4 separate regions of the Homo sapiens genome follow, and regions 1, 2 and 4 are each linked to region 3. Evidence: fine-mapped QTL for protein levels in blood plasma. A gene starts in region 3. Each other region holds a variant in brackets. All regions are shown on one strand. Distances are between the middles of the regions.

Region 1 (7,396 bases), 64 kb before region 3:
GCCCCTGCGCCTCACTTAATCTTGCAGAGACACATGAGTGCTCATTGGGCTATTGGCTGAGGCTGGAGGGAACCAGGGTAGACAGAGAAAGGATAGCAGCAACCAGAAATACTGCAGCTGCCCCCCAGGAAGATGAGAGGGTGCCAGGGCACACCTTGCTGGGCTGGCAGCAGAGACAGCTGGCTCTCTGAGAGTTTCATTTGAGTATCCAGTTTAGAAGGACTAGACAGTGTCTGAGAGACTAGAGACTTTATTCTATATCTATGAAGACTTCAGCACAGCCAGATCTTCAGCAAATCTTCATTTAGGTCACTGAGGAAACTCTAGGAGGCTATCTTTATAGCTTCTTTCCTCCTGACAGTTAACACTGTAAATGATCTTAAGGCATTTTTGTCACATCCCATTAGCTGTTAGACTGTGAATCAGAGGAAGATATTGGTCCCTTCTTATCCTGAAGGAGCTGTTTTGGAGGAGCAACAAGATATTTTTCATGCAAATTAGCTTTCAGATTTCTTTAGACACTCAGTGCTATATAAATTTGTATTCTCCAAGAGGAGCTAAAAGCCTGGAGCAGTGGCTCATGCCTATAATCCCAGCACTTTGGGAGGCCAAGGTGGGTGGATCACCTGAGGTCAGCAGATCAAGACCAGCCTGGCCAACACGGTAAAACCCTGTCTCTACCAAAAATACAAAAATTAGCCAGGCGTGGTGGTGCACGCCTGTAATCCCAGCTACTCTGGAGGCTGAGGCAAGAGAATCACTTGACCTGGGGAGGCAGAGGTTACAGTGAGCAGAGGTCATGCCACTGCACTCCAGCCTGGGCAACAAGAGTGAAACTCTGTCAAAAACAAAAGGAGATAAAGCACAATAATAATACCCTGTACTGCTGCAGAGAGAAGTGTGTGCAATACGGCGACTGCCCCTCAGTAGGATCTCCTCCCACTTGGCTGTAGCACTGGCATCCTGGCAGATGAAAGGCCCTCTCCAGGAGATCTTATGTGGAGGGGGCTCAAGGGTTGTTGGCAGGAAGGTTTTGTGTGTGAGGGTGTGTTCTTCAAAGGAGGAAAAACTTAAGTTCTAAGATAGTGAAAGTCAAACTATCCAGTTATCATGGAAGATAATCCTCATGGTATTGGCCACATTCATCTTGATGCTCCTCAGATTTGTTTCCGGGTGGTCCCTAATGCAGTGTGCCCAATCCATTCCCTCTGCTATGCCTGTGTATGAATTTGTTGATAATAATGCCTCTGAGAATGACCTCAAAGTGCAACAAAATCTTTGTGCTTTGACCTCATCACACTTGCTAGAAGAGTCAAACTCACCCCTGGATTTGGCTCCTCTAGCAAGCCTGATGAGCCTGCTCCGTGCAGTGACTTCCTTCCTTAAATCTAGTCCAACTCCACGAAAAGTTATCTCCTTGTAAGATAATGGAATCCTCCTAAACTCTTCCTCTTCCTTTGCTCAAAGGTGTCTTGCGTCAGCCGAGGTGGCTGCTATGGAAGGAATCTTAGGTGTCTTCTGAAGAAATTGTGATCAACCCCCCTGAAGCTGTGTCTGCTGGGAGAGCCTGTGCTGGCTATGTCTTTGTTGCTTGGCCCAGCTGTGAATTCATGCAGCCTGCCCTGGCCTTCAGAAGCTCACCTGCGGGTGAGGCCACTGCTCTGCAGCAGCTTGTACGGTGCGCGCCACGCCGCACCACAGCTGGGTGGTGGGCTGCCCTCCGCGGTCTCCGTGTGTCTGTGTTCCATGTACCTCTGAGAGTTGCATAGCCTGGAGTGCCCCAGCAGCTCCCCACACACCCACCTCTATCCAGCATCCTCCAAACTCCTGCTGAAGGCCCACGCAATCCTTGTGGGCCTTCACCCCCTCTCCACTGCCCCCTCCCTGCAGACTACACATCTCACAACCCACCGCCCACTCACAGACCCATCAGGCTGCCGCTGTCCTCAATCCAGACCAGTTCGACCCCCTCAGCCACTTCACCCCATCTCCTACAGGCTGCTCTTCATTTATGCCTTCAACGTTCTAGGCCTCCCCTGGTATCTTCCTCCATAATGGCCATCATCAGGATGACACCATTGAGAATCAGGAAAAAAGTGTCTATTGCCACGGGCGTGGGAAAGGTAAACTGACCACTTACCTAAATAATGAATCCCACCAATGGAAAGACAATGGGAAGCGGGTTGTATTGTTATCACTGAATCCTCTCATCCTTAATGAAAGATATTCAGTGACCAAGATGAGGGTGTCCCGAGGACTTCTCACAGCAGCCGAGGCAGTTTGCATGACTACTTACCTCGTTGAGCTAGGATGTAGCATGGGAGTCTTAACACAAAGGGACTTCATTTCATGGACTACCAAAAAATAGCGAGTGCTTTCAATTCTCTTTTCAATATTGTAGAGGAGCTCAATGACGTATGGAAATGGTACACTGTTTTTTTTTTTGTAAAGCAAGTAAGCACCCTATAATTTCTCTCTCCTGTATATCCAACATTTTGCACATGAAAAAAAGCAAGCTATCCTGTGGTGTTTGCTATGTCAAGAGAATCAGGAAATAGCATTATCTCTGGTCTGATGTTAGAGAGTTAAAAACACATTTTTCAAAAATGTGCCCATAAGACATATTTCTTTTCTTTTTCTTTTTTTTTCAAGATTGAGTTTTGCTCTTGTTGCCCAGACTGGAGTGCAATGGCGCAATCTCAGCTCACCACAACCTCCGCCTCCTGGGTTCAAGCGATCCTCCTGTCTCAGCCTCCCGAGTAGCTTGGATTACAGGCATGCACCACCACCCCAGCTAATTTTGTATTTTTAGTAGAGACAGGGTTTCCCCATGTTGGTCAGGTTGGTCTCGAACTCCTGACTTCAGGTGATCCACCCACCTCGGCCTCCCAAAGTGCTGGGATTACAGGCCTGAGCCACCGTGCCCAGCCAATACATATTTCTTAAATAAAGATCCCATTTTCCAAACCACGGCTTGGTCTTCAAACAGTAACTTGACACCGACTGTCCTCAGAGACTCTATGATGATTTGAGATTTGGAATGGATGTTCACACACTCACCTGGCCAGTAGTACATGTAGACCTTCCTTTTGGCCTTGGTCAGAGTGACCCACAGAGGTTCTGATCCATTCCACCAGAGAGGCATTAGGCTGTCTTTGTTGACGCCAATGTCAAAGGACTTGTTG[G/T]TGGTGGGGTCCCACATGTAGTTCCCGATCATCTGATGGACTTCACAATGGCGGCCTATGTCAATGAGAACACAGCTGTCAGTTTACGGTTCTGGTGGTTTCTATTTTTATCTTTGTTTCTTGATCATATAAGCCATTCGTGCTCGTTTAGGAAGTACAGAACAGCATAAAGATTTGCTTTTGACTTTAAAAAAAAATCAGATTTTTTTTTCTTAAGCTGTGCCATGAAGGTAGACAATCCAGTTAGATGTCCACTAATTGATGGAGGGTGGGGTCATTTAGAGTGACGTCACCCTGTCAAGTCAGCTGTTTTAAGTTACACTGAGGACACTGTGCAGAGCTTGAAGTCTAAATATGAATTAGCATGGACATCTGTGGATTCCTCTGAGACTTGGTCTCAGATTCTCACCCCAGAGCCCTCTCTGCACCCTCCAAACCCTCCTCCCGTGAGATCAGCAATCTAGCTGTTATAGCGTTTATTCTTTCCTTTCTTAAATAAGAGGAGTTGTTGCTTCAGCTCTGAACAGTGATAAAACCTATGACGTTTGGAACAGAATAGCGAAAAATAGATTCAACTTTGAAAAACAAAGCAGGAAAACAACCCTTCAAATGCAGTGTTATACAGAAACGAGGGCTGGTTCTGTTGAGCACAGCTTAGTCCCAGAAGACAAGCCAGAAGTGAGAGACGCAAACGCTTGGACTCTTTTGAAACATTAGGCTTAAATTATTTATTTTGGAGCAATCTGTTACATCTTTAAAGTAAAAATAACACAAACATTGGCAAGTGCATCAAAAATTGCTGCAATTTTAGTGAGCGTCATTTGGCACCAGGACGAAACATGCTTCACTGAGCTCCCTAACTATGCTTAATCAAGTGGCTTTTCTTCTTTGTTTTACTGTTGTTGTTTCTTCTCCCCACCCCTCCCAAAATTTTATTTTTAAACAGAAACAAAGAAAAATTATAAAATACTATTTGGAAAATAGACACTAAAAATATCAAATGGAAAAACCTTTCATTTCATCCCAGAAAGCAAGGCAGGCCACAAACTATGCTACTGTGCTCCCAGAGATCCCAGCAAAAATGGTTTTCACCCAAAGCTGTAGAATTAGTGTTTTGATCTTGACCAAAACTTTCACATTAAAAAGATTAATACAATTAAAAATAAAATAAAATTAAGATGTTGAGCAATTTTGGCAATGGTTAAGGAAGTTATTTTATTTATTGTTTCAACTAACATGTATTCAGTGCTCTTACATATATAGTCCTATGTATTGTAGGCTGTGATAGATGTAGAGATTCCAATCTGAATAAATGTCATGCCCATCCTCAAGAGACTTGTAATTTAATACTCAACAGAGGGTCCTCTGTGTAAAAGAGCCAGGCTTCCCGGGGCTGGGTCTGAGAAGGAGGACAGGTTGCAGCCACAACTTCAGAGTTATGATGACCCTCGCTCACCCTGTTGCAGAGGATAATTCCTAGTATGTTCTCACCAACTCATTAAAAGTAGGGTCCTAATCTATTGGTTCAACTATATTATCGTTTTTAGTATATGAAAGTTGAATCATATTAAGAGAGCCCCTCTTACAAGTAAAAGTACTTATCTATTTCCTTTATTCAAAATTTTGCATTCTGTGTCACAAATTGTATTATCCTAATGATGCTTACTCATCCTTTCACAAGGCAAAATAACCATGATCATATCTGTAGGAAAAGGCCTCCTTCGTGGACAGTCTTTCCTCATAGAGAGATGTTCTCTGATGCCCTTCCAAGTGCAGGAGGTTATCTCAACTGCAGCTGGTGTGCAAAGAAGCTGAGCAAATGTGCAAAATTGGAAGGGGGTGTGGGAAGCATCATTCCTGAGGTCAGGAACCAAAGAAGAGCCTCTGAATGAATCATCAGGAAAGGACCAGGGATATCAGACATGGGAATAATAGGGAGAGATGCCGAGGGAGAGGGGTGGAGGGATCTCTGCTTCCAAGCTTGAATTGTTTGGACCATTTTAGAACAAGGCCATGAAACCCAGAGATAAATGGAGGCTTCACATGATGTAGTTTTCACAAGGCTGCATACAAGGAAGCATGAAGCAACCAAAAAACAGTTTTTAAAGTACATATAATCTATACTTGTATATCTCAGAAACCCCATATCATTTGGTGAAAATTTCTCTCTTCTCTTCAACGCACATATTTAGCACTCTGGACTCTAAAGTGTCCAAACTCACTCATTCTTCTTTGTTCTCTGCTCTCTGAGTAGAAAATTATAAGGAGCTTCTTGTGGATTGCAGAGCTGTTGTATGGCTGGATTGTGTGTGTGCATGCATGCACAGGTGTGAGAGAGACAGAAACACAGAGGGAGACAGAGAGAGACAGAGAGAGAGATGGAGAGAACATTCTCCCAGAGAATTCCTATAAGGTGGAGCGCTTTCAAGAAGGTCACCTCAGACTCCTGTGGAGAAAGTTGGGTTTCTTCTTTTGGTGGATTGGGCCCTGAGCTGAGATGGGAGGGTGTGCTGTCCCCAGGGCTTCCTTTGCTCTGGGAAGAGCAGCCTTTCCCGGAAGCTGGCAGGAGGAGGCTGCTTCAGATCTTGTCCCGCCTTCCCATGAATACAGTAAGGCTGCAGTCTGTGCTTGGAACAGTCGAAGTCGACTCAGACTCAAGCTGATTTCCCTACCAACCCTCTGCCTCTCTTGCTCTTTCATTTTTATTGCCTCGGTAAAATTGGTGGCTGAAAGAACAGAACAGAACACAATGTACTGGCTTCTGCAGCCCACGAGCTCTCATCTCCATATTCCTGCCTGACCCATATCTATTTTTATACAACTGCAGTTCTGGGTTTTTCTCTGGTTGTGCTTTCCAAACAGAGCTTGGATGTGGTGTGGTTTTTTGGTCTCTTTGCTCAAGGCTTGAGTAGAAACTTTCCTGACATCCTCCAACACCACAATTGCAAGTGGTTTTCAGGTATGATGTAAGGAATGTCTACAGCTCTTCCTCCTCCAAATGACTACTCTGGGGGCTTTGAAATATGTGTTTGCCTTTCTCAGAGAGAGCTCCTGGAATCGTTCCCATAGCTAGAACTGCTGTATGAAGGGGGTGGGATATGACACCTTCGGTGTTCATTCCACAGAGTCTTACTCAAGCATGTTCGACGTAGTGACCATCACAAGAAGTTTCTTAGCAAGGCCCCCAGAAACTTCTGCACCATGTTATATGTTTCATCTCAGAAATGGCTGGCCTTCACATCTCACGAGAAGGTAGAGGATATGTCCATCTTACCTATAACTCATGGTCACAGAGACTTTCTCTTTGACTTCTGAGTCCTCTGCTCAACTAGACTCAAACTTGGGCTTCCTTCCTTTTTCTTGTAGAGTCCAGGTTGAGCAAGAATCCTGCTAAGTCAGTTTAGTGATAATCCTCCACGCTTGGTATCTGACCACCCTCAATATCTCACCACCCTGCCTGCCTTCAGCAAGAGTTCTGTTGAGTAGATCTAGCCAGAATTCATTGGCCAGAATCCCTTGATGTTTCTTCTTAGTAGTTTTGCATCCGCTGACCCCACCATGTTCCTTGTCTGTCAATCTCTACTTGTCTGTTGTACTTGGAGTGGAGCCCAATCTCTCTCCCACTGCTGGATCCCACTGCAGCATCCTTCCGTCTATCACAGTGGTTCCTCCTTAAAGAAAGTTAGCCTTACCATCTTTAACAAGCATCATAAATAAATTCGTTCTTTCTCTTTCTTTCTTTCTTTCTTTCCTTTTCTTTCTTTCTTTTCTTTCTCTCTCTTTCTTTCCTTCCTTTCCTTTCTTTCCTTCCTTTCCTTTCTTTCCTCTTTTTCTCTTTCTTTTTCTTTCTTTCTCTCTCTCCTTTCTTTCCTTTCTCTCTTTCTTTCCTTTCTTTCCTTTTTTTCCTTCCTTTCCTTTCTTTCCTTCCTTTTCTCTCTCTTTCTCTCTTTCTTCTTCCTGATCTCACTTTGTCACCCAGGCTGGAGTGCAGTGGGGCAATCATTGCTCACTGCAACCTTGACCTCCCCAGGTTCAGCCTCCTCCTCAGCCTCCCAAGTAGCTGGGACCACAGGCATGCGCCACCAAACTTGGCTAATTTTTTTTTTTTTTTTTGTATTTTTTGTAGAGACAGGGTTTTGCCATGTTGCCAAGGTTGGTCTCAAACTCCTGGGCTCCAGTGATCCACCCGCCTCAGTATCCCAAAGTGCTGG
Region 2 (7,396 bases), 29 kb before region 3:
AAGCATCCTGATTTGCATAGGTTTTGAATGTCACTAAATTCACACCCTCCCATAAAGACAAACACCAGAAACAACATCCCACGGGCAACATCTACAACCAAATGAGGGACAACGCATCCCTGTGAACCTCAAAACACAAACCTGTGGGGACACCCCAGCCAGCGCTCTAGAGCCACATGGTCTCAGCCTCTGTGTGGGGTAGCAGGGAGGAGGAGCCGTGTCCTTTTGCGAGAATCATGCCCAGACCCCAAGGTCCTTTCACTCTCATCACCCTCTTTAACCTGCAGAACACCTTGTCCTTATTTAGATTAAAAACAAAAAAGTTGTAGTATTCTTGACAAAAAAGGTTTAACTTGAATCTATTCATGAAGAAAAACAATCAGACAAATCCAAAATGTGGCATATTGTACAAGACAACTGGCTGGGATTTTTAGGATTGCCAACATCATGAAGGACCAAAATACAAAACAAAAAGGCAAAACAATTTCTCTTAATGCAGAGCAAAGGAACATGGCAACCAAACGTACTGCTTGAAACTTGATTAGATTTTAGATTTCAAATAATGTTCTAAGGGATTCTTTTTTGGCCATTGAGAAAACCTGAAAATATGGAAAATAGTCTAATTAGTTGATTTGTTGAATCAATGTTAAATTTGTTGGGTAGCATTGTGGTTGTGTAGAGAATATCTTACCCTTACCCATGCTGAAGGATTTAGCGGTGAAGTGTCAGGTGTTAGCAATTTACCCTCAGCTGGTCCAGCAGAAACAAAAGAGAAACCTATATTTCTCAGTGATTAAATAAAGCAAATGTGCCAAACCTTAACAATTTGAGAAACTTGATAAAGCGTACATAGATATTCATAATACTATTTCAATGTTTTTGTACTTTGAAATTTTCTATTATAAAAACTTGAGGAATAGCCATACAATGGGATACTATTCTGCTGTAAACAAGGAAAAAACTATGGATACATGTTCCAGTGTGAATGAAAATGAAGCTCAAAAACAGTATGCTCAGTAAAAGAATCAAGACCCAAGAGACCACAGATTGAATGATTCTGTTTTGATAAAATATCTACAAAAGGCAAAGCTAAAAAGACGCAAAGTAGATTAGCAGTTTTCTGGGGGCGGGGTGGTGGCAAATGGGAATTAACAATAAATGTGCATGAGACCGACAAGGTGAGAAGAGAGAACAAGAAAGAAAGAGAAATAAGGACCAGGCTCTGAGGAGCTCCAATATAAAGGGGCCAGCAAAGAGAAGTCAGTGGGAGGTTCTAGAAGGTGAGGTTGAGAGGAAGGAGAAAACTTGGACCCCAATAAAGAGACAGTTTCTAGGAGGCAGGAATGGTCAAAAGGTTAAATACACAGAGAGATCTTGAGAGATGCCATTGGGTCTGGCCATTAGGAGGTTTTGAGTGAATTTAGGAAGAGCAGGAAGGGTAGAGGATGACATCAGTAGTGGAATCCCAGTTCATGCATTTGCCCCGCCGTGGCCTGGGCTGAAGTCTCCTACAGGCCTCTCTGCTTCCGCCCTCAGCCTCACTGGCCATTGCTCTCCATGCCCCGGTGCTAGAGTGATCTTTCTAAAATGAAAGTCTTATCACACTACCCCCCTACTCAGAACCCTCCAAAGGTGAGCCCCACACTCAGAATAAGATCCAAAGTCTGCGCCACGACCTACAGGACCTGCCGCGGCCTCTTGTCCATTCAGGTTCTTCAAGAAGCAGACGCCAAGACAAGGTTAAACATAAGAGAAATGTGTTAAGAAAGCACTCGTTCCACACAGAGGGAGGGGAGGAAGCAGAAGCAGGCCGTAAAATCTCCCATTTGTAAGGTCTGGCATCTGTGAGAGGAGATGCGGAAGGAAAGGACTGGGTAGAAAGGATGTCTGCAAATCTAAGGAGGTTTGACCAGATTGCTGGGAATCCTCAAGCTGGGCCAAGGTCACCTGTTAGAGGAAAAGGCCTGCACCAGGAGCCTGACCTTGCTTGGTCATTGGTCAGGGTCAGCTTGGGAGAAGTGAAACTTTGGCACCAAGGTGATGGACTTAAAGGAGCAGCAGCTGGGACCATTGGTTGACTCTGCTCCCTGCAGCAGATCTGGGCAGTACTGCGTGAAGGCCACCACACCACTGCACACCGCTCAGACCTCACTGCCACTCTCATTGCTCCTTTTTTGCTCTTGCTACACTGGCTCTTGGCTTCCTCCAATATCCCAAACATGCACCTGCCTCAGAGCTGTCGCTGTTCCCTGCCTGGAATGCTTTGTTCTCGGATATCTACAGGCCAGCTCCAGGGCCTTGCTCAGGTCTCTGCTCAAATTTTATCTTATCAGAAAGACATTTGCAGACCACCCTAGGTAAAATGGCACTGTGGTCATTCTTGGTGCCTCGTCTAACTTTTTCCATAGAATTTATTACCACCTGACATTGTTTATATATGTGTTATTTGTCTGCAACATTTCACAAGAATGTAAATTTCAGGAGGGTAGAAACTTTGCCCTGTTTTGTTCATTTGTATCTCCAGGGCCTAGAAGAGTATCTCTGGCTCCATAGAAGGTGAGAGATACTTCTTGAATAAATGAATGAATAGACACCTATTATTTACACATAGCAAGCTCTGAAAATATTTTGTTGAATGAAGAATGAATGAATGAAGAATAAACCAGACTGTCCAGGAGCTGGGGATACAGCGCAGAACAAGACCAAGTCCTGCTCTTGGAGCATACATTCTTTAATTAAAATAAGGTTTATGACTGGATGCTAGAGTCACGATAGATGATGTATGGAAGCACAGGCCTCTTGGAGTCAGCTTCTGTGTGTTACCTTTATGGTAGCATGCTCTTACAGAAGACCATTCCAGGACAGAGTATAACATGGCCCATGGGTTGAACAAACCCAGGGGTGTTTTGTTTCCATCCTTATGTTTATGTTTCAATTCTAGAAGTCCTGTCAGTTTCCGTTGTGCCTGAAGCCTTTCCCAGTCGTTTCTCTTTATGAAAAACATCAACGGAGGTTGGCGTCTGTGGGGTATATTCCAAGACCTACAATGTATGTTGTTAACCCAATTCCTTCAACCAAAGAAAATATTGTCCTAGGTTTTTGTTCCAAACAAAGAAGGTAATTTCTTCACCAACTGCCATTTTCACCCCCATCCCCCCAAATTGACGATCTGGGGTCCCACGCTCTGCTTGAGTCAAGGGTTGGCACACGACTCAAAGCTTCTGTCCTGAAGCTGTGTCACAGTCTTGCCACGCTGTGTTTGCATATGGCTGCTAGGAATCAGCTCCATGAGACCACACACAGGCATCTCACGTGAGAGGGAAAGCTGGTTCAGAAGCCACGTGGGGAGACGATGCCACATTGCTCCAGAGGGCTACAGATTTATGAACAGTTTAGCTGGAGAGAGAAGCAAGTCTTCTGAGAAAAGATTCAGGAAAATGTATTGCCAATTAAATGTGGGAGGCTTCATTCAAGATAAAGATGTCTCACGCTCACACATGAGAGACTGATTGTTAATCCCCTGGGCCTACTGGTAGGACCAGCTTTGCATTTTATGTGAC[G/A]GAGGAGGTACTGATTTCCATGAAGAAGTCAAACCCTGGCCCTATTAACACTTAGACTTGAACCTGAATAGATCTAGAAAGATTCCTAGGAAGCAAAATGACAGATAAGGTGATTAAGCAAGTGGATGCATTTGCCATTCTTTGAAAATGTAATTTCCTGGACTTTCCACCTGTGACCCACCAGGGTGACCATTCAAGTCTGTCAAGTGCTTTGGGGCTGCAGCTTGGAGCCGAGTGGCTCTGCACACTAAGAGAGCTGGGCCGTGCTGGGAAAGTGGATTGGAGTTGATATAATAAATAGTTCCTCATGTATATGCCAGGGGATTTCTCCTCTCAGCCGCCTTCCTTTCCTGGCCATGGAAGGAAAGGAAGTCCTGTCAGTTTCCTGAGTCAGGGGTGCTGTGTTGAAACCAGAGGGGATGGTGTCCATTAGATAGTTCCCAAAAAGAATTAGACTTTGTCCCTCAGGGAAACTGGTAGTGAAAGATGTGATTTTCAACAGAAATTCCTGGCCTAGATTTCTAACCCCACAAATCCTACCTCAAATCAGGCCACTTTCCCTCTTTTTAAATCATAACTTTGAGTCTCATCTAGGGAAAGGGGTATAGAAAGACTAAATTCACGCTTTAAAAAGTAAAGGTAAGCATGGACAGGCTTCCGGTGCTAAGCAATGCTGAAGCTCCGGTTTGAGTCCGCAGCACTGGCAGTGAACGGGGCTCATGACCAATGACAGTCCTGCCTTTCCACGGACAAAGTCAGGAAGCCTCATGAGGAAACAGACCAGAGGAGGCCAGAAGGGCAGAAGAAAGAGAGGACCCTGCAGGAATGTTCAAATAAACTCCGTGGAGTCCTTAATGTCCTCATTTTTAAAGAAAAGCAACTTGAACCCAAGGAGACTTTGTCTGAAGCCACAAGGTTTAGATCTCACCACAGCCCGGAGTAGAACCCGTGTCTCCCACTTCTGGTCCATCCTGACTCTCCTCCCATGAATATCTCCAAGAGATGGAGAGGAGCGAGCCAGCCAGAGCCCAGGATCAGCATGTGAGCATGAAAAGGAAGGGAACTCGTGTGAGGAGACAAGTGGTTGGATTTGGCAAAGAACTGAGAAAATATAAAATATGGCTGAGTAAAATACAAGGTAATCTCATTTTGGCAGAAGCATTGCCTTTTTATTTCATGTTATTAAAAATCATATTCTCTTGCTGACCATGAAACCACCTGGAAGCAGGGGTGCTAAAATAGAAAACCTACCACACACCATGTCGCCTCAGGGAACCGCCGTCTCTGAGAAATTTTCCAGACTCTCTGTTATAAGTGGCTTGAACTCTCAAACCTAATATCTCTTGGGTAATACAAAAGAAGTTGTTTAAACCACCAGAGTACTGGATTACTCACCGATCTGGAATTTAGTGAAAAGGTAAACCATAGAGTTTAAGTATGGTGCCTTCTTGCCCCTCACAATATTTGACAGAGTTTGCAAAATACTTAATTCCTTCCATTTCTGCTTTGTGCTTCTAGAACTTATCCTGGTTTGTGTGTGGACTGTCACTGGGGAGAAGAGAGCAGAGAGAATCGGGGAGATATGTCTGAGCTGATCTCCCTCATTTTCATTTGGATGTTTCATCTGCTCTAAGACTAAACATATCACCCTTGATAGATTGGCAGCAGGAATTTCTTTTCTGTTTGGAGTGGAAATGAGATGGGGAAGAGAACAGCTAAAAAGGAAAGCTGGCTAACTATTTAGGATACAGCAGCTTCAAGAAACTTTAAAACATATACAAGGAGGCATTTATAGAGTGCTTACTAAGTGTCAGGGAGCATGAGACACATTGAGTGGGATGTAGGGTGAGTCAGACCCTGCCCTCATTGGGACCACCATGCCCTCCCAGGTCCCCATAACCAAGTATAATCAGAAGCAACTTGTCCAGAGCTGCATCTTGGTGGTCTGGGGCAGTATCCCAGATGTGACTTATCAAAAGAGGCCTGTTTAAGCCATTTTTCACAACTGTGCAGCCTTGACCATTTGAGATAAGTAGCTAAGTGTCTGATGTTGAATCCTCTCTTTTATGCTCAACCCCAGAAGCGCTTATTGTTCACATTGTCCATTGAGACACACAAAGGAGGGTTTAAAAAATAGTTACCCAGGAGGTTGCTTAGTCTGAAGGAAGCCTGGAAAGGCAGTGGCTCATGTACTATGGGTGTCTATGTGTGCAGGCGTATGCCACGTGCATATGCAGCTACAAGATCACTGTCTAAGGGAGAGACACGTAGATGCCTATGCAGGATGGCGGCCCTGAGAGCTGCTTCCTTAGAAGTCAGAAGGAAGAGGCAGCATGATGTTGTGGGGAGCACAGGATTTTGTACTCATAGTTCTTCCATTTATGGGCCCTGTAATCTTGAACAAGTAATTTAATATCTCAGAGCCTTGGTTTCCTCATTTGTAAAATGGGAACAATTGTGACTACTTTATAGGGTTTTATGAGGATTAATTGGAATAGTGTTTGAACGTACCTAGCACTGAGCATAGCACAAAATACGGTAGACATTTGGGAAATGTACGTTCTGCTCCCTGCTTGACTGAATCCGGCTACTTGTAATAAAGGAAGACAATAGGAGTGCTACAGAGATAGGCCATCCATTGTCTTCTCAGATCCTGACTCTGCCAACTGGAGGCAGTGTGTTGAGAACGCAGAGCGATGGAGGGGGAAGCAGAAGCCCTCTGTTCTGGTCCTGATCCACTCACTTCCTGACTAGTTGACCTCAGGCAAGGCACTTAACTTCTCTAGATGAAAGTTCTCTCATCTGTAAAATGCCTGTACATAACTCCTAACGTGACTGTAAAGATCAATTGAAGGCATCAAGATTAGAAAGGAAGAAGTAACTGCCTTTATCTGCAGAAAATATGATCTTGTATATTCTTGTATGCAGAAAATCCTCAGGAATACACAAAAAACTTTTAACTAATAAACAAATTCAGTAAGGTAGGAAGATAATTACAGTTTATATACTGCAAAAATAAAATTCTGAAGATAATTCCATTCACATTAACGTCAAAAAAAATAAAACATTTAGCAATATTTAGCAAAAGAAGTACCAAATGTACGCTGAAAGCTACAAAGCATTGCTGAAGGAAACTGCAACAACCCAAATACATGGAAAGACAGCCCATATTCATGGATCAGAAGACTTAGTATTGTTAAGATGGCAATACTACCTAAGTTGGACTACAGATTCAACACAATCCTTATCCAAATTCCAGCTGGCTTTGGCAAAAGTTGACATGTTCTTCCCAAATTTAATATGAAAGTACAAGTGACTTGGAATAGCCAAAACAATCTTAAAAAGAACAAAATTAAAGGATTTATGTATACTGATTTTGAAACTTTCTACAAAGCGTGGCAATCATGATAGTCTGATCTCACCATAAGGATACACCTAAACATCAAGAGATTATTGGAATAAAATTGAGAGCCCAAGAATAATCTCTAATATTTATGATCAATTGATTTTTGACAAAGCTGTCAGAAATAGTCAATGGAAAAGGAATAGTCTTTTTCACAAATAGTGCGGGGACAACTACCTCACACTGTATATAAACATTAATTCAAAAGGGGTCACAAACTTAAATGTAAGAGCTAGAAATTTTCTTTGTCTTATAAGAAAACATAGGAGTAAATCATCACGATGTTGGGTTAGGCAATTATTTTGTAGTTATGACACAAAAAGTACAAGTCGTAAAAGGAAAAGTTGATAAATAGGACTTCATCAACAATAAATGCTTTTGTACAGCAAGACATCCCATGAAGAAAGTGAAAAGACAACTCACAGCCTGGAAG
Region 3 (7,396 bases):
TTCATCTTCATGATCATGATTGGCATTTTGGTTGCTTTTGTCCTGATATAAACATGTTTTGAGGCAAATAAATAATCAGCCATGGTGGCTTCATGGCAGCAACTGGGCTAGATGGTTTCAAGGTTGCTCACAAATAGGCCTGTTGATTCCCCATCCCCATCCACTGTGAAATTCTCTGTCTCAAGGGAGTTTCCGCTATTTGCATACTTTCTACACGAAGGCCTCCTAGGAGGGTCCAGCCCTAACTTTAAAATTACCTGTGCAAATAGCAAAGACTTTGAACCAACCCAAATGCCCATCAATGATAGACTGGATAAAGAAAATGTGGCACATATACACCATGGAATACTATGCAGCCATAAAAAAGAATGTGTTCATGTCCTTTGCAGAGACATGGATGAAGCTAGAAGCCATCATTTTCAGCAAACTAACACAGGGACAGAAAATCAAACACCACATGTTCTCACTCATAAGTGGGAGTTGAACAATGAGAACACATGGACACAGGGAGGGGGACATCACACACTGGGCCCTGTTGGAGGATCGGGGGCACAGGGAGGGAGAGCATTAGGACAAATACCTAACGCATGCAGGGCTTAAAATCTAGATGACGAGTTGACAGGTGCAGCAAACCACCATGGCACATGTATGCCTCTGTAACAAAACTGCACGTTCTGCACATGTGTCCCAGAATTTAAAGTGAAATAAAATAAAATAAAATTCCCCATGCATTGCCTAGTTCTATGTCTGCATCCAGCAGCACCTGAAATCCCGGCCTGATGCAGCCCCGGCAGTTCATCTCATTTTATTTTGCCTGAAGTCTCCAAGCAAGTTCTCCCAGCTCAAGGGCCAGCATTCTTTCCAACAACTCATCACTCCTCGTTATGCAAAGGGAAGAACACCAAGGGCTTTCTGTATTCTGAGCAATAATTCGGGTAATGAAGTGAGAGCTTAGCCTCTCTTGTGAATGCTGAGGAACCCTAAAACAGCATATCTTTTGCTTCCAAAAAGATCTAGCATAGCAATTTTGTTGGTTCATAAAATGCTCAAATGCTCAAACCATATGTTTAGCTACAATTCCCAATGGCTATATCCTTCTTTATATGAGTAAAAGAGGAGGTTTTCAGCATCAGGTGGAAAAATAAGTATGGGTATTGGGGAAAATAGTCTAAATTTAACTCTGAGTCAGTTCCAAGACAGTGGAGGTGATACCAGGTTCATGGCCTGGCATTTCCCAGCCTGCGAATTCTGCTTCAAGTCTGCAAGTCTGCCCAGTAGGTACAAGACAAATCATACCCAAGGACATTTGTACAGAAACATGAGCCTTGCTAGATCCCTCCCTTGTGCAGGGTAGCTTCTATGAAACATATAGACCAAGCAGACTTCCACATCAGTGAATACATTTGGCCATCTGAAAATACAGAGACTTAACACATATGGAGACCTGTGGCTTCCTCGGGCCAGCCTCAGTTTGAAAGCAAGGGTGAGATCTTTGTCAGACACTCACGGGACCTGTGCTGCCCATAAAGGAAGGGGCCCTTCTCTCAGGACAGCACAAGGGAAAACACCCACAGCCGGAAAAGAAGGTGTGTCTCAGCATGACGGAGGCTGTGTGCAAATTATTCCTTGTGCCAATATCAGGAGTGTGGATCTGACAAACAAAAGGCCATGTCATTGGCTTAGTGTCTCTGTGGAGTCTGTAATGGTCCTTTTACTTACTTGAGTCCTTTCTAAGATGGATTTTGTTCATTTTCCACTAAGATTGCAGAAGCTGCACGTGGCGTGGCAGTTTATGAATTGGGTCCCCTGGCAAGGCTCTGAAAGACAGCTGGAGTGGGGGTGGGCTGTGTGTGTGAAGCCGCTGCACAGAGCTGGAGTCGGCTGTCCACACAATCACGTCTATGTGAGAGCCGGCAGCCTGCAAACTGCTTCCCTGCAAGGGGAGACACATGCCAGGGGAGGGCCAGAGAATTTTGTTAATTCTGTTTATCTTAGAGACTGTTTTTTTGTCTGCTGGGGGAAATAAAAAACAAATACATAACTTCCTTGCTTGTGTGCAGTCTGATTTTTTTCTCTCTCTCATGCCCTCATTTTTATTTCTCCGAAGTATCTCTCCCCTTCAGTTTGGGGCATCAGTTTATGGCATTTTTCCGTACATGTGTATATAGTATCTATGCACAAAGTCAGAGATATAAATGTCTGTTTTAGACTCTTTTGGCTTTAGTGTTCTGTGGAGGTCCATGAGATATCAGAGATCTCATTTTCTTTCTGTTAACATAATTAGCAGAGCTCTCTCTGTGCTCAGAGTGCATAGCTGAGTCCCGCATAACCAGCAATAACAGTGCATTCTTAGCAGCCTCCCTGGATAGTTTGCTAAATTCTTTCTGAGAGCCTCTCGCTGCCTTTACAAAGGTTATAGCTGAAAAACAAACCAGAAACTGGGAATCCAACTCTGTGAGCAGAGAGAGGGCTGCACATTCTATTATCGCACGGATAGAGGCTCAGGTTCATGCAGTCGCGTTTGGAGTCCTGGCAATTTCAGATGAAGGCCGTCCTTAGGAAAATCAGCTATCCCAAGCCCAGGCAGTCTGGGTTAGCCGAGGTTTTTGTTTGTTTTGTGGAGTTTTTGCTGGTTGGTCTTTTGTAGATGCTGCAAATCACAAATGGGGAACCTGAACGACACAAGCTTTTTCTTCTCCGTATCATTTTACCTGGCCAAAAAGGCAAAAGAAGGGGAAGGTGGCATTGCTAAGTCACAGGGAAGGATATGACCTAAACATCCCCCCTTCCCCAAGTAATCCGGGAGCACCACTCCCCTCTGAGGACCCCACAGGTACTTTCACAGTCCAACACACTGAGAAACAAGCCCACAGGGTGCCAGGATGACATGACCACAGAGAAAAGGGACAGAAGGAGTTTGGGACACATGCACGGACACCTGTTGCTTTTGCAGACTTGAACTTAGAAAATATGAGCCTCATTAGAATTTCTCTTTCTAAAATAAACGACCACTTTTAATATCGTCAAATATCATGTACTGCTATAGTTCTCTGTCCTCCGCACTGAGAATCCAAAACAGGTCCTTGGGATAACTTTTGGGAAACAATACCGCCACGAAAACAAAAGTCTTCTCAGCCAAGAACACAGATTTTTTTTATCTACCTTTGATGTCCCAAAGGACTAGAGAATCCAGAGCATTTAAATAAGACTCCAATGCCAGGAGCTCACTGTTCCCTGCTGGATGCCAGCCCTCCCCTCCCTGCCCAGAAGAGGACATGGTACTCACCAGTCATTAGGGTATAATAATTGGGATACGAGAGACTAGGGAAGTCTGGAGTCAAGTAATCCACTTTTACTCCCCTGCTCACAATCTCTTTGAAACCAGGCAATGACTCCAGCGCCTCATCACTGATGTAGTCTGAGCGAAAACCATCCAGCAGAAACACCAGCAGCTTCCGGCGGGCAGAGGCTGGCTGGGCCAGGCCCAGGGCAAGGGCCAGCAGGAGGGTCCCAAGCTTCACTGCCATGCTGCCAGGAGCCTGCCAGAGCCCGGCTGGCACAGCTGTCGCCTTGCAAAGACTGAGGATGGAGAATCTGTAGCTATTCTCTCTTCCAGGGGCTGGACCTTGAGCCGCTGGCCTTCCTGAGTCAAGTTCACTTGCAGAATTTAAAGGAACAGCACCCCCTTTTCCACACATCTATGCTCACCCTTTACTAGAAAGTCCAGAGACCGACTCCTTCAGATAAACTGGGTTCCAAACAACCCAGAATTAACACCAGGGGAGAGAGTTCAAACTTATTATTTTTGGTGAACGTTCCAGAAATACAAGCACCCACAGAGGTGGAATTTTAGAAGATGACAAAGTCAACACTAACTTTGCAGTTGAGCTAACCAAAGGGAGGAACCAAGGAAAAGGGCAAGATTTTAATTTGCTGTTATCCCACATCATGGCCTCATTTAAACTCTTTTTCACTTAGAATTTAGTAACGCAAACCTCTGGACTCAGTGCATAAACAGGAAACAATACGTTTCGGTGGGCCCATTTGTAAACTTCCCAGCTGTGTCTCTGTAGACACAGCACTTAAAAAAGTTATTTGTCTATGTCTTGGCCACTTATGTTTTTATATGCAGTGTTATTATTTGTTATTATTTTATTTTTCAAATGTGATTTAGCTGCTGGTGCCCATAGGAGGAGGTGGTTCGTAGAAGAGCCCTAGAGCCAATGAGAAGCTTCCAGAGTTGGACAATGGGAAATCATTACTGGCAGAATGGTCTGAAGCAGCATTGCCCCAGGAGGATGGAAATGAAATAGAGAGCTGGAGATTGAGAGCTTGAGATGGAAAAGCAGAGCTAGAAATTACCATGCAGGCTTTGGGACCGAGAAGACTAGGCGGAGTGGAAAATAGGAGGAGGTTAGTGACAGGGAGGCAGATGTGAGCTGGGGAGCAGACAGAGTTAGCACAAAGTACCCAGAGTCCAGGGGTTCCCTAGAGTGGCTCCGTCATGCTACATAAAATTAAACAACACAATTCATGTGAAGGCTTATAAAACATGGCTGAGTGCAGTGGCCCACTTTGGGAGGCCAAGGTGGAAGGATTGCTTGAGGCCAGGAGCTTGAGACCAGCCTGGGCAACACAGCAAGACCCCATCTCTATAAAAAATTAAAAAATTAGCTGGGCCTGGCGGCACGTGCCTGGTCCCAGCTACACAGGAGGCTGAGGTGGGAGGATTGTGTGAGCACAGGTGGTCATATCTGCAGTAAGCTGTGATTGTATCACTGCACTCCAGGCTGGGCAACAGAGTGAGGCCCTGCCTCAAAAAAAAAAAGACATAAAACATGCATGGTCCATAGCAAGTGTTGAACAAATGTTAGATGTTATTCGCATTATAACATTGCTTGTCTCCTGAGGAAACTTGCAGGCTCTGGGCAAACTTTCCAGGGAAGGAAGATAGACACCAGCCACACCAGCCACTCTCAGTCAACCCCAAAATCCCTCTTCCACCTCTGCCCTCTGCTTGTGTCTTTTCTCCTTCTCTTTTTCTGTTGTATTTGAGTCAAGCCCAAACACAGGATCACCATGTCACTTTTTAAATTATGCTGCAAAAGAGAAACACATTGGCCAAATTACCACTCCCCTCTCAGGGGACTTGGCCAAGGATCAGAATTCTTTTTTCCAATAAGAGGTAATGCTTTTTATAATTAAATTTAAATTTTTTTCTTATTAAAAAATAAGGAAAAGGGGAGTTTATCCTAAAAGGTTGTTACTTTGAAAACAATGTTATTCTTTTTTCTTTGAGCTGTGTGGTATTGTTGCTATAAACAGAGAAAAAGAAAAGAGAGAAGAAAGAGGAAAGGAAGGAAGAAAGAAAGAAAAAGGAAAGAAAGAAAAGTAAACGAAGGAAGGGAGAAAGAGAAAGAAAGGGAAGGGAAGAAAAGGGAAGAAGGAAAGAGAACAGAAGGGAAGAGAAGAAAGGAAGAAAAGGGAGGAAGGGAAGGAAAGGGGAGGGGAAGGAAGGGGAGGAAAGGGAAGGGAGGGAAAGGAAGGGAAGGGAAAGGGAAAGGGGAAGGGAAGGAGGAAAAAAAGAATAGAAGGGAAGAAGGGAAAGGAAGAGAAAAAGGGAAGAAAAGCGAAGAAGGGAAGGGAAGGGAAGGGGAGGGGAAGGGAAGGGAGGGAAAGGAAGGGAAGGGAAAGGGTAAGGGGAAGGGGAAGGGAAGGAGGAAAAAAGAATAGAAGGGAAGAAGGGAAAGGAAGAGAAGAAGGGAAGAAAAGCGAAGAAGGGAAGGGAAGGGAAGGGAAGGGGAGGGGAAGGGAAGGGAGGGAAAGAAGGGAAAGGAAAGGGAAAGGGGAAGGGGAAGGGAAGGAAAAAAAAGAATAGAAGGGAAGAAGGGAAGGGAAGAGAAGAAGGGAAGAAAAGCGAAGAAGAGAAGGGAAGGAAAGGGGCGGGGAAGGGAGGGGAGGGGAGGGAAGGGAAGGGAAGGGAAAGGAAGGGAAGAAGGGAAGAAGAGAAGGAAAGGGAAGGTGAGGGGAATGGAAGGGAGGGGAGGGAAGGGAAGGGAAAGGAAAAAGGGAAGAAGGGAAGAAAAGGGAAGAAGGGAAGAGAAGAGATGGGAAGAAGGGAAAGGGAGGGATGGGAAGAAGGGAAAGGGAGGGATGGGAAGAAGGGAAAGGGAGGGAAGGGAAGAAGAGAAGAGAAGGGAAGGGAAAGGGAGGAGAGGGAAGGGAAGGGAAGGAGAAGGGAGGGGAGGGGAGGGGAAAAGGCAGATGCAGCCTGATGGGTTGATGGGCCTCCTAGACACTGAACATCACATGTGCTAGAAGGAGAACTTCTTCCCCTGGTGAGGGCCCATGGAGGTAGGAGGCCCAGATAGCTGTGCTCTGTGAGTTCCTGAGAGGCTCAGGGATTGTCTGGACTGCGAAGCTGGAGTCACAGTGCAAGTCCAAGTGATTTACTTTGGGATGGCCTCTGAGCTCACTTTGGGATGGCTTCTGAGCTCACTTTGGGAGAGGTTAAGCACTCCAAATGTTAAAGATGAATATAAGAGGGACTTCCACTTTTCTCCACTACTAACAAGGGTACACTCAAAATATGGCTCCCTGAGTGCCTCATTGAGCTGTTGTGGGTGTCAACTCAGAAGTAACTTGCTTCAGATTAGCGTGTTCACAGGTCCCCAGAGGCTCCCAAGGCTCCACAAAGATTGTTGTGATGTATCTGGGGTGGGGTCATCATTGTTTTATGATAATGTTTATGATCATATTGTGTTATGACCATGTTTAGACAATGTCTCTAAAGCTTTGGATCAATAAATGATTGCCAATATGAATCTCTAATATACATACCAATATATGAAGAAAGAGACGTATTGGATGGAATTCAAGCCAAGGTAATCCTAGGGTTGCTCAAAGCCAGTCTCCAGGTCTTGAACCGTCTAACCTAGAAAAGATTGGAAATGAAAGCTAAAAAGCAATAGTTAAAAGCCATATGTCATACAGGTGGTTAACATTAAGTGCCCAAAGTCTTGTGATCCAAAACCTATGTGTCTATGATCTGGATGTCTTCACTTGGGAGTGGTTATCAGTACCTAATGCTTATAAGTGCTTATTGCAACTTGTTTTCAAGGGTTGGCAATACTGTAAAGTCATTGTCCACAGGGGTTTCACTTAGATAATGCAAAATATGAAAAATTTACTCCAGAAGTTGAAAGAACCTTTGTCCTAAAGCTGCTGCAAGTCTCTCTAGGGACATGCATGAGCTCTCAGGAAATGTGCTGTCCAGATTAGTCAGCACCCTGGTGCCTCCCCTTTATGGAGAGACAGGTGAGATGGAAGGGAAAGAGTCTCAGAAAAACAAAACAAAACAAAACAAAATAAACAAACAAAAAACACAAAAAAAACG
Region 4 (7,396 bases), 14 kb before region 3:
GTCTTCTCACGCTAAACAGCAAGAGTGCAGGCCCAGGAAGATGATGTAATGTATCCAAGTCCCTGCGGACTGTGGCAGTCAGGAGAAGCCGGCTCCTCTGCCCCCTTTCCCTGCCCTGTGGCCCACACTGCTTCGCAGCCTGCCCTGTGCAGATAATCGGCTGGGCAACCCAGGTTGAGTGGATGAGACTGCTCACCACCAAAGGTGACTCCCGGGGGACCTGGCCTCCTGGCACACCTGGAGCCCACTCCTGGTCCCTAGCACTCAGCCTGGGTTGTTCTGCTGCAGACATGTACACACATTCTCCCATGCACGTGCTCTTGAAGGTGCCCTGGGTAGTTCCTTCATCAAGAAGTAAAGATCTTCAGTATCCTGGACCAAAGTTCCATTGCTCTCAGCCCCGACAGCCCTTTGTCTAAATAAGGTGGCCCACGCATCCTCCCATGATCTGCCTTCTGGATCTTCTCTCCTTGCTGTCGAAAGGGCTGATGATGGGAGTCGGTTCAGACCAAGCAAAGTATCCAACAAGAGTCAAACACAGCACGCGCGCCCCCAGGACCCCCAGCTCTGCCCCAGGTCTCTGCCTGGTTATCGTGTGGACACAATGGACCTATTCATGGAGAGGGGCTCTGAAACTCGAGCAGGTGTTGCTGAAGGTGTCTCTGAGATGAATGTTAACCTGCTGAGTCAGGCTCCCTCCAAATTAATCTGAAATGCCCTTTAACCCACTTTTGGCACAGCACTCATGCTGAGCAGGAACTGGAGCTGCAGGGGTCAAGCCATCCCCAAAGCCTTGGCAGGAGGCACATGATCCTATCAATCAACATTGGGGTGAGGGAGGCGGGGCGGGGGGGTGTTGTGAGATCGCCATGGTGTGTAGACCGCAGTGGCTCCACGTGGACAAGCCTTCTGGAAACGCCTTTGCTGTTATTACAATCAAAAGCTTTCACCACATTTTACAGCTTTGCCCCCTACTCTAACCACTCCCTTCTTCATGGAGCAAGTTTCCAGCAGCTGAATGCCATATAATCAGAACACCCTCTGGTCACCATGGAAGCCAAAAGAAACATACTTTTTGAAAAGTGACACTTCAGTGCAGAGAGGTCTGTTGATAGGAGCTTAAATAATGATGTGCTGGGAGACATTATTTTAGTAAATTCTTAGAACACATTTTTTTTTTTCCTCAGGGCATGGCTGGTTAGTAGTGCTCTTACCCACTTCTAGCTTCAATTGCTGGACACCTCGCCTACCATGCCTGCTTCTTTAGGCAGCTTAATCGAGGCTCATTACAGAGAGTATAGTTTAAGTGGAAAAAATGTTGTTAGGTGTCTCTGGGAAGTATATGACAAAATGTTGACAAAAGTTAATTCAGGTGGGAAGACAGATTTTAACTGTGCATCCGTGAGAAATATTCTCTACCAGCTGGGTAGCAAGCAGTGAGATAGGAAGTCCATTTACTGGGGTCCACTAGGACCCACAGGATCAATTTCTCTCCTTTGCCTCAGTGGTATTCTGCATGCTTCTTGAACTCTCCTTTAAGACATGGTCTCTGATCCCCTAAAGGGCTAATGCCAAGTGAATATCTTACTCAAATTGAAATATAATTTGATGAAAATTACTTTTCCAAATAAATCTCACTGAGATTAATAGCCCTTCAAACTTTCCCATCTGTGCTAATGAGAGCCCCTTTACTCAGACTTCAGAAGATCTTGCAGCTGTGGCATCTGTTCAGGCTCTTCTTTCGTATTCACTCATCAGCCAATCAGCAAGTTCTGCCTCATGGGTGCCCTTCAAATTCAACTCTCCCCCTCACTTACAGCCCATCATAAAGGATAGATGCGGTGAAGTCTGGAGTGGAACAGGAGGGGAGGAGGAGCCTGTTGGACTATCCTTTGGTATGGCTTTCATAGACTTTCATCAATTGCACGTTTTTGACACACTCTATTCTCTGCAACCCCCGACCCACACCCAGATGGCAAATGGGCTCAGCACCCCTCCTTCTGACCTGACCACGCTCACTTCTCCTCCTTTGCCCAAACTATCCATGATCACAATGTTCTATTTTATCTTTTACCTCTGCCATGAGAGCAGCATGTCTCATTTAGAAGTTGCTTTTTTCAGCCTGGGTCCCAGAATGAAGAGGAAATCGGAGGGGAGGTCATTCCTCAAGGCCACGCACATGAGTGAGGAATAAACCTGAGCTATTCTAAGACAGACGTGGTGTGGAATTGCTTGTTGCAACAACATAACTCAGCCTCACCTTACTGATAAAGGGGGTAATATGTACACTCTTACTAATGGTGAGTTTACACATATATTTGCTCATTCTGTTCTCACAGCAAGCCTATTGGGTAACATTTACTTTCTACATTCTACTGATAAAATATTAACACTCACTGGACACAATGGCTCATGCCTGTAATCCCAGCACTTTGGGAGGCCAAAGCAGGTGGATCACCTGAGGTCAGGAGTTTGAGACCAGCTTGGCCAACATGGTGAAACCCCATCTCTACTAAAAATACAAAAAAAAAAAAATAGCCAAGTGTGGGGGCAGGTGCCTGTAATCCCAGCTACTCAGGAGGCTGAGGCAGGAGAATCGCTTGAACCAGGGAAGCGGAGGTTGCAGTGAGCTGAGATCGTGCCACTGCACTCCAGCCTGGATGATAGGACGAGACTCTGTCTCTAAAACAAAACAAAACAAAATATTAACACTCAAAAGAAGCTGTTCAAATTCTGAAAGTCAAAAAGTGACAGAATAGATTAAGTTTGATCTTTGACAGCTAAATCCGTAACTTTCTCCACTGGACCATGCGTAATGGGTTGACTTGTGGCCCCCAAGAAGATATACTGAAGTTCCCAGCCTCAGGACCTGTGAATGTGACCTTATTAGAAATAAGCCCTTTGCAGACATAGTCAAGTTAAGATGATGTCATTAAGGTGGGCCCTAATTCAATATGGCTGGTGTCCTTACAAGAAGGAGAAGCACAGAGGAACACAGAGAATGCCCCGTGACAATGGAAGCAGAGGTTGGAGTGATGTATCTACCGGCCAAGGAATACCGAGGATTGCTGGTGACACCAGAAGGCAGGGGAAAGCGCAGAACATGTTCTCCCCTTGAGACTTCAGAGAGAACACGGCCCTGCCCGCACCTGGATTTCAGACTTTGGGAATCCAAATTTGCTATAGCAGCTCTAGGAAGCTAACACACCATGACTGCCTCAATTTCAGGGCAGAAGTCACCAGAAACTCTCAGTGAGTAGGTTTGGTCATGGAAGTGGGCTGTGTAAAAAAACCCTGCATTTTTCCATTAGCAGCCTAGTGTCACGATCCCGTTTATATTGCTTTCCAATGGCTGTCAGGACAAAGTAACACAGGCTGGGTGGCTTAAACAAAAGAAATCTAGTTTCTTACAGTTCTGGAGGCTGGGAGTTTGAGATCAAGATGTCATCAGGGTTGATTTCTTCTGAGGCCTCTCTCCTTGGTCTGCAGGCAGCCGCCTTCCCCCTGTGTCTATATGTGGTCTTCCCTCTGTGCCCGTCTGGGTCCTAATCTCCTCTCCTTATAAAGATACCAGCGATACTGGAT[G/T]AGTGCCCACCCTAGTGACCTCATTTTACCTTAATTACTTCTTTAAAGATCCTATCTTCAAATACAGTCACATTCGGAGATATTAGGGGGCAGGGCATAAACACATGGGTTTTGGGGGTGTACAAATTAGCCCATAACGTGGCCTGATATTTTTAAACATCTAAGTAGCTCCTTGCGATGCTGGCATACATAGCCTGGCCACCTAAGCAGCCTGGGACAGAGGCTGAAAACACAAGAGTGGCCGTGCAAGTCCCTTTAAGCTGCCACATGCGTCCCTAGGTCCGACAGCCAGACCACTCGCACCTAGGCCTGAACCGTCCTCACAGTGTTCCACGCTGGTTCTGAATCATGTGCCTGGTTCCATGCGTGGCTGTTGGCTCCACTTTCTCGACTTCAGCGATCTTCACTACAAGGAGGCTCTCCCTTGGGCTGTGCTGACCACTGGTTCCTGGTTAAACTTTCTCCCACCATCCCCAGTCTCTTTCATCTCCTACTTTGACACAGCTCTCCTTGGAGGTGACTCTCCTTCCAGGCCTCTTTCTGACTCCAACCTTATAATCAAAATTTAAAACAAAACTGAAAGACACATTTTGAGATATGTAAGATTACTAGACGTAAAGGGTAATCAGTTCACTAAATGCAAATTGCTTTCATATGAGCAAAGCATGATTGTAGTTTTTTCTCCTCCTTATTAGTTTAGAAGTGTCGAACATCAAAGTGATCATTCATTTCCCTGAAACTCTGAATGTCTTAATCATCATTATAATGCTTTTTCGCTATAGTAATTTTTTTTTTGAGATGAAGTTTCGCTCATGTTGCCCAGGCTGGAGTGCAGTGGCACCATCTTGGCTCACTGCAACCTCCTCCTCCTGGGTTCAAGCGATTCTCCTGCCTCAGCCTCCCAAGTAGCTGGGATTATGGCACCCACCACTACAACCAGCTAAATTTTTTTGTATTTTTAGTAGAGACAGGGTTTCACCGTGTTAGACAGGCTGGTCTCGAACTCCTGACCTCAAATGATCCACCTGCCTCGGCCTCCCAAAGTGCTGGGATTATAGGTGTCAGCCTCTGTGCCCAGCCCACTATAATAAGTTTTATTTGGAGAAGACAGAAATAAATAATCTGGTGCCGTGATGGAAAATAAAGAAAGTAAGAGGGAGAGAGAGCGCTGGTGGGGTGGCTGGGGAAGACGCATCCGCCACGGTGACCTTGTGGGGCAGATCTGAAGAATGCAGCGATGCCCAGCTTGGGCCTTTCTGGGGAACAAGCAGAAGGGAAGCAGCCAGGAGGAGCAGCGTGCTCAAGCACGCCCAGCGGGACACAAGCAAGCGAAGAGAAGGGTGGTGGGAGCGAGGCCCCGAAGGGGCTGGGTGACCTATAGGGCCAGGTCTGCAAGAGCGTTAGATTCCACTTGGGGTACAACAGAACCCGCTGGAGGGTTTGAACAGAGGAGTGGTGTCATCAGGACTGCTTTCCCAGGGCTGCTCTGGTTGTAGGGCAGGCACTGCTTTCAAAACAGGGCTGCTCTAGTTGTGGGGCAGGCAGCGAGAGGGAGCTGGAGTAGAGGAGGCTCCAGGCAGTCAGGGTGGTGGCTTCAGCCAGGGGTCAGCAATGGAGGTTGGGGGAGGAGAGGCTGAGGATCGACCTTGAAAGGTCAGCTGATTTCACTGTGAGACAGAGGAAGGTCAGGGAGATCAGGAGGAACCAAGGGAAAGGATGAAGGAGGAGTGAGTAAAGTAAAAGGAAACTGAGAGAGGACAGGGTCCTGGGACCTGTGAGCCGTCAGGCAGATGCAGCTCCCAGCCAGGGAACTAAGGCTGGGAATGACCAGGACGCCCGGGAGGACACTGTTCCAAACAGAAGCTTCGCTGGATTTGGTGCAAGAGAGAGTAGGAAGACAGGAAGAGGGCATGCCGAACAGAGATCATTTATTTCAGGAGGTACCTACATTGAAGGAGGCTCACAAGCTGGGGCAATGTCCCCATGTAAATGCTAATCCTGGGGGAAGGAGGGCGGAGGGGACCAGGGAGGCTGTCTCCACCCTACCTGGAGCTGTGCGTATGCAGAGTCTGTGAACAGCCCCTCAAAGGAAGCTTGAATTTTTTTTTTTTTTTTTTTTTTTTGAGACGGAGTCTCGCTCTGTCGCCCAGGCTGGAGTGCAGTGGCGCGATCTCGGCTCACTGCAAGCTCCGCCTCCCGGGTTCCCGCCATTCTCCTGCCTCAGCCTCCCGAGTAGCTGGGACTACAGGCGGGCGCCACCAGGCCCGGCTAATTTTTGTATTTTTAGTAGAGACGGGGTTTCACCGTGTTAGCCAGGATGGTCTCGATCTCCTGACCTCGTGATCCGCCCGTCTCGGCCTCCCAAAGTGCTGGGATTACAGGCGTGAGCCACCGCGCCCGGCCAGGAAGCTTGAATTCTGCAGAAGGCTGAGGATGTGGGCTCTCTCGAAACACGATTGTTCAAGTACTTTCTGCATTGATTGCCTTTGGTCCAGTTTTAATTTAAATCAGATGTTTTCTTAAAAGGTGGGGTGGTAGGAAGTATACCTTACTCTGCTGTTTTACCCCAGAACATGATATCTAGTAAGAATTTGTGTCACAGGTGATTTCTAGGAGTGCGAGACAAAATGCCGTGGCACAAATAGTAATGCTGAGTAGTTAACATCCCTGTTGTTGCCTTGATTTCCACAGAGGAGCACGATGATTCGGTCTCTCGCTGCTTCCCGGACTGTCTTGGGGAGATCTCTATCCTTGGGTCTCAGGTCACTCGCACAACCTTCTGGCCACTCTAAGATGCAGGCTTAGGCCCTGGCCAGTTACTGTGTGAGAACGGGACCTCTGATGCCTACTCGCCTAGGCGCTGGCCAGTTGCTGTGTGAGAACGGGGTCTCTGATGCCTGCTCCCCCATCTCAGCTCTGCCACGACGTTCTTTGGTGCCTGAAACAAAACATTGAATTTCCCTGCACTTTATTTACTAGTGTCTAAATGTTGAAATAATAATAATATACTGTGGAACAAACTTATTTCAGCATCTGTTCATCTCTTGGTAGTTTACTGGCAGTAAAGATAAAATTCTAGACTGGCTTCCCCGCTACTCAGAATGTTTCTGGGCCACTTTCCTCAACTGCTTAACCGGAAGTGTTTGAAAATTGCAAACAAATGTTACCATTAGCCTTAGCAAAATGATGCTAAGTTACGCTGCCTCAAAACAGATGCAGCATTTCCCTCTTACCCATGACCTGGATTGAACAAATCACTGCTTTCTTTCCTTGACTTTATGTTAAACTCCACTTCAGTCAAATGTGAATTTACCCCAAAGGGAGAATAACTTTACGAAAAGATCCACGGTAAGATACACTAAAACAGAAAGCATTCCAAGGGCATTTAAACTGTGGTTGTGTTTTCACTAGTTGATCCACACACCGCTCTTCAGAGAGAGAGCTTATGCCTAAAGTAAGATGTAGAGACACACACCACGCCGGTGGCTGTTTCTTCCAGCTCAGATCTCTCCTCTTTAAAATGCTTTTTCACACTACTCCAACTGGAAGGAACGCCTCCTCTCCCTGGTCCTCTGCAGCACGCTGGGGCCCTACTCCCTATTCTCTGTGTATTCATTCGCTTGGGCTGCCATTATAAAGTACCACAGATGGAGTGGCTCCAACAACAGCAACTTATTTGTTCACAGTTCATGAGCAAGGTGTTAGCAGCATTGGTGTCTCCTGGGCCCCTCTCCACCGCCTGCGAGGGCCGCCTTGCTGTGTCCTCAGATGGCCTTTTCTCTGCACGTGCGCATGCCTGTGTCTCTTCGCC

Direction of the effects. Alleles are on the strand shown, and positions count from the first base shown. The strength of an association depends on the size of the effect and on how common the allele is.
As copies of T replace G in region 1, the plasma level of the protein whose gene starts at base 3,581 in region 3 goes down (weak association).
For the plasma level of the protein whose gene starts at base 3,581 in region 3, G is the low allele of the variant in region 2 and A is the other (moderate association).
For the plasma level of the protein whose gene starts at base 3,581 in region 3, allele G in region 4 goes with a higher level than allele T (strong association).

What was found. PIP is the posterior inclusion probability: the model's chance that the variant is causal. The UK Biobank Pharma Proteomics Project read protein levels with antibody pairs (Olink). The fine-mapping took linkage between variants from a reference panel, not from the people measured, so its PIPs are less certain.
Region 1: its variant is fine-mapped to the plasma level of the ENPP6 protein (UK Biobank, PIP above 0.99). The variant lies in the coding sequence of ENPP6. If it changes the protein, the assay may bind it differently, which can mimic a change of level.
Region 2: its variant is fine-mapped to the plasma level of the ENPP6 protein (UK Biobank, PIP 0.98).
Region 4: its variant is fine-mapped to the plasma level of the ENPP6 protein (UK Biobank, PIP 0.97).

What each region holds. Positions count from the first base shown.
Region 1 is chr4:184,150,494-184,157,889 of GRCh38, forward strand. It overlaps ENPP6 (ectonucleotide pyrophosphatase/phosphodiesterase 6), which reads right to left. Exons shown (of 8, transcript NM_153343.4): 2 at 3,061-3,240. Among named protein-coding and RNA genes, the nearest start is that of ENPP6, 64 kb to the right of the region's middle. The variant G/T (reference allele first, on the strand shown) is at 3,186.
Region 2 is chr4:184,185,281-184,192,676 of GRCh38, forward strand. All of the region lies in intron 1 of ENPP6 (ectonucleotide pyrophosphatase/phosphodiesterase 6), which reads right to left. Among named protein-coding and RNA genes, the nearest start is that of ENPP6, 29 kb to the right of the region's middle. The variant G/A (reference allele first, on the strand shown) is at 3,561.
Region 3 is chr4:184,214,293-184,221,688 of GRCh38, forward strand. It overlaps ENPP6 (ectonucleotide pyrophosphatase/phosphodiesterase 6), which reads right to left and starts at 3,581. Exons shown (of 8, transcript NM_153343.4): 1 at 3,287-3,581. The coding sequence starts at 3,527.
Region 4 is chr4:184,200,568-184,207,963 of GRCh38, forward strand. All of the region lies in intron 1 of ENPP6 (ectonucleotide pyrophosphatase/phosphodiesterase 6), which reads right to left. Among named protein-coding and RNA genes, the nearest start is that of ENPP6, 14 kb to the right of the region's middle. The variant G/T (reference allele first, on the strand shown) is at 3,586.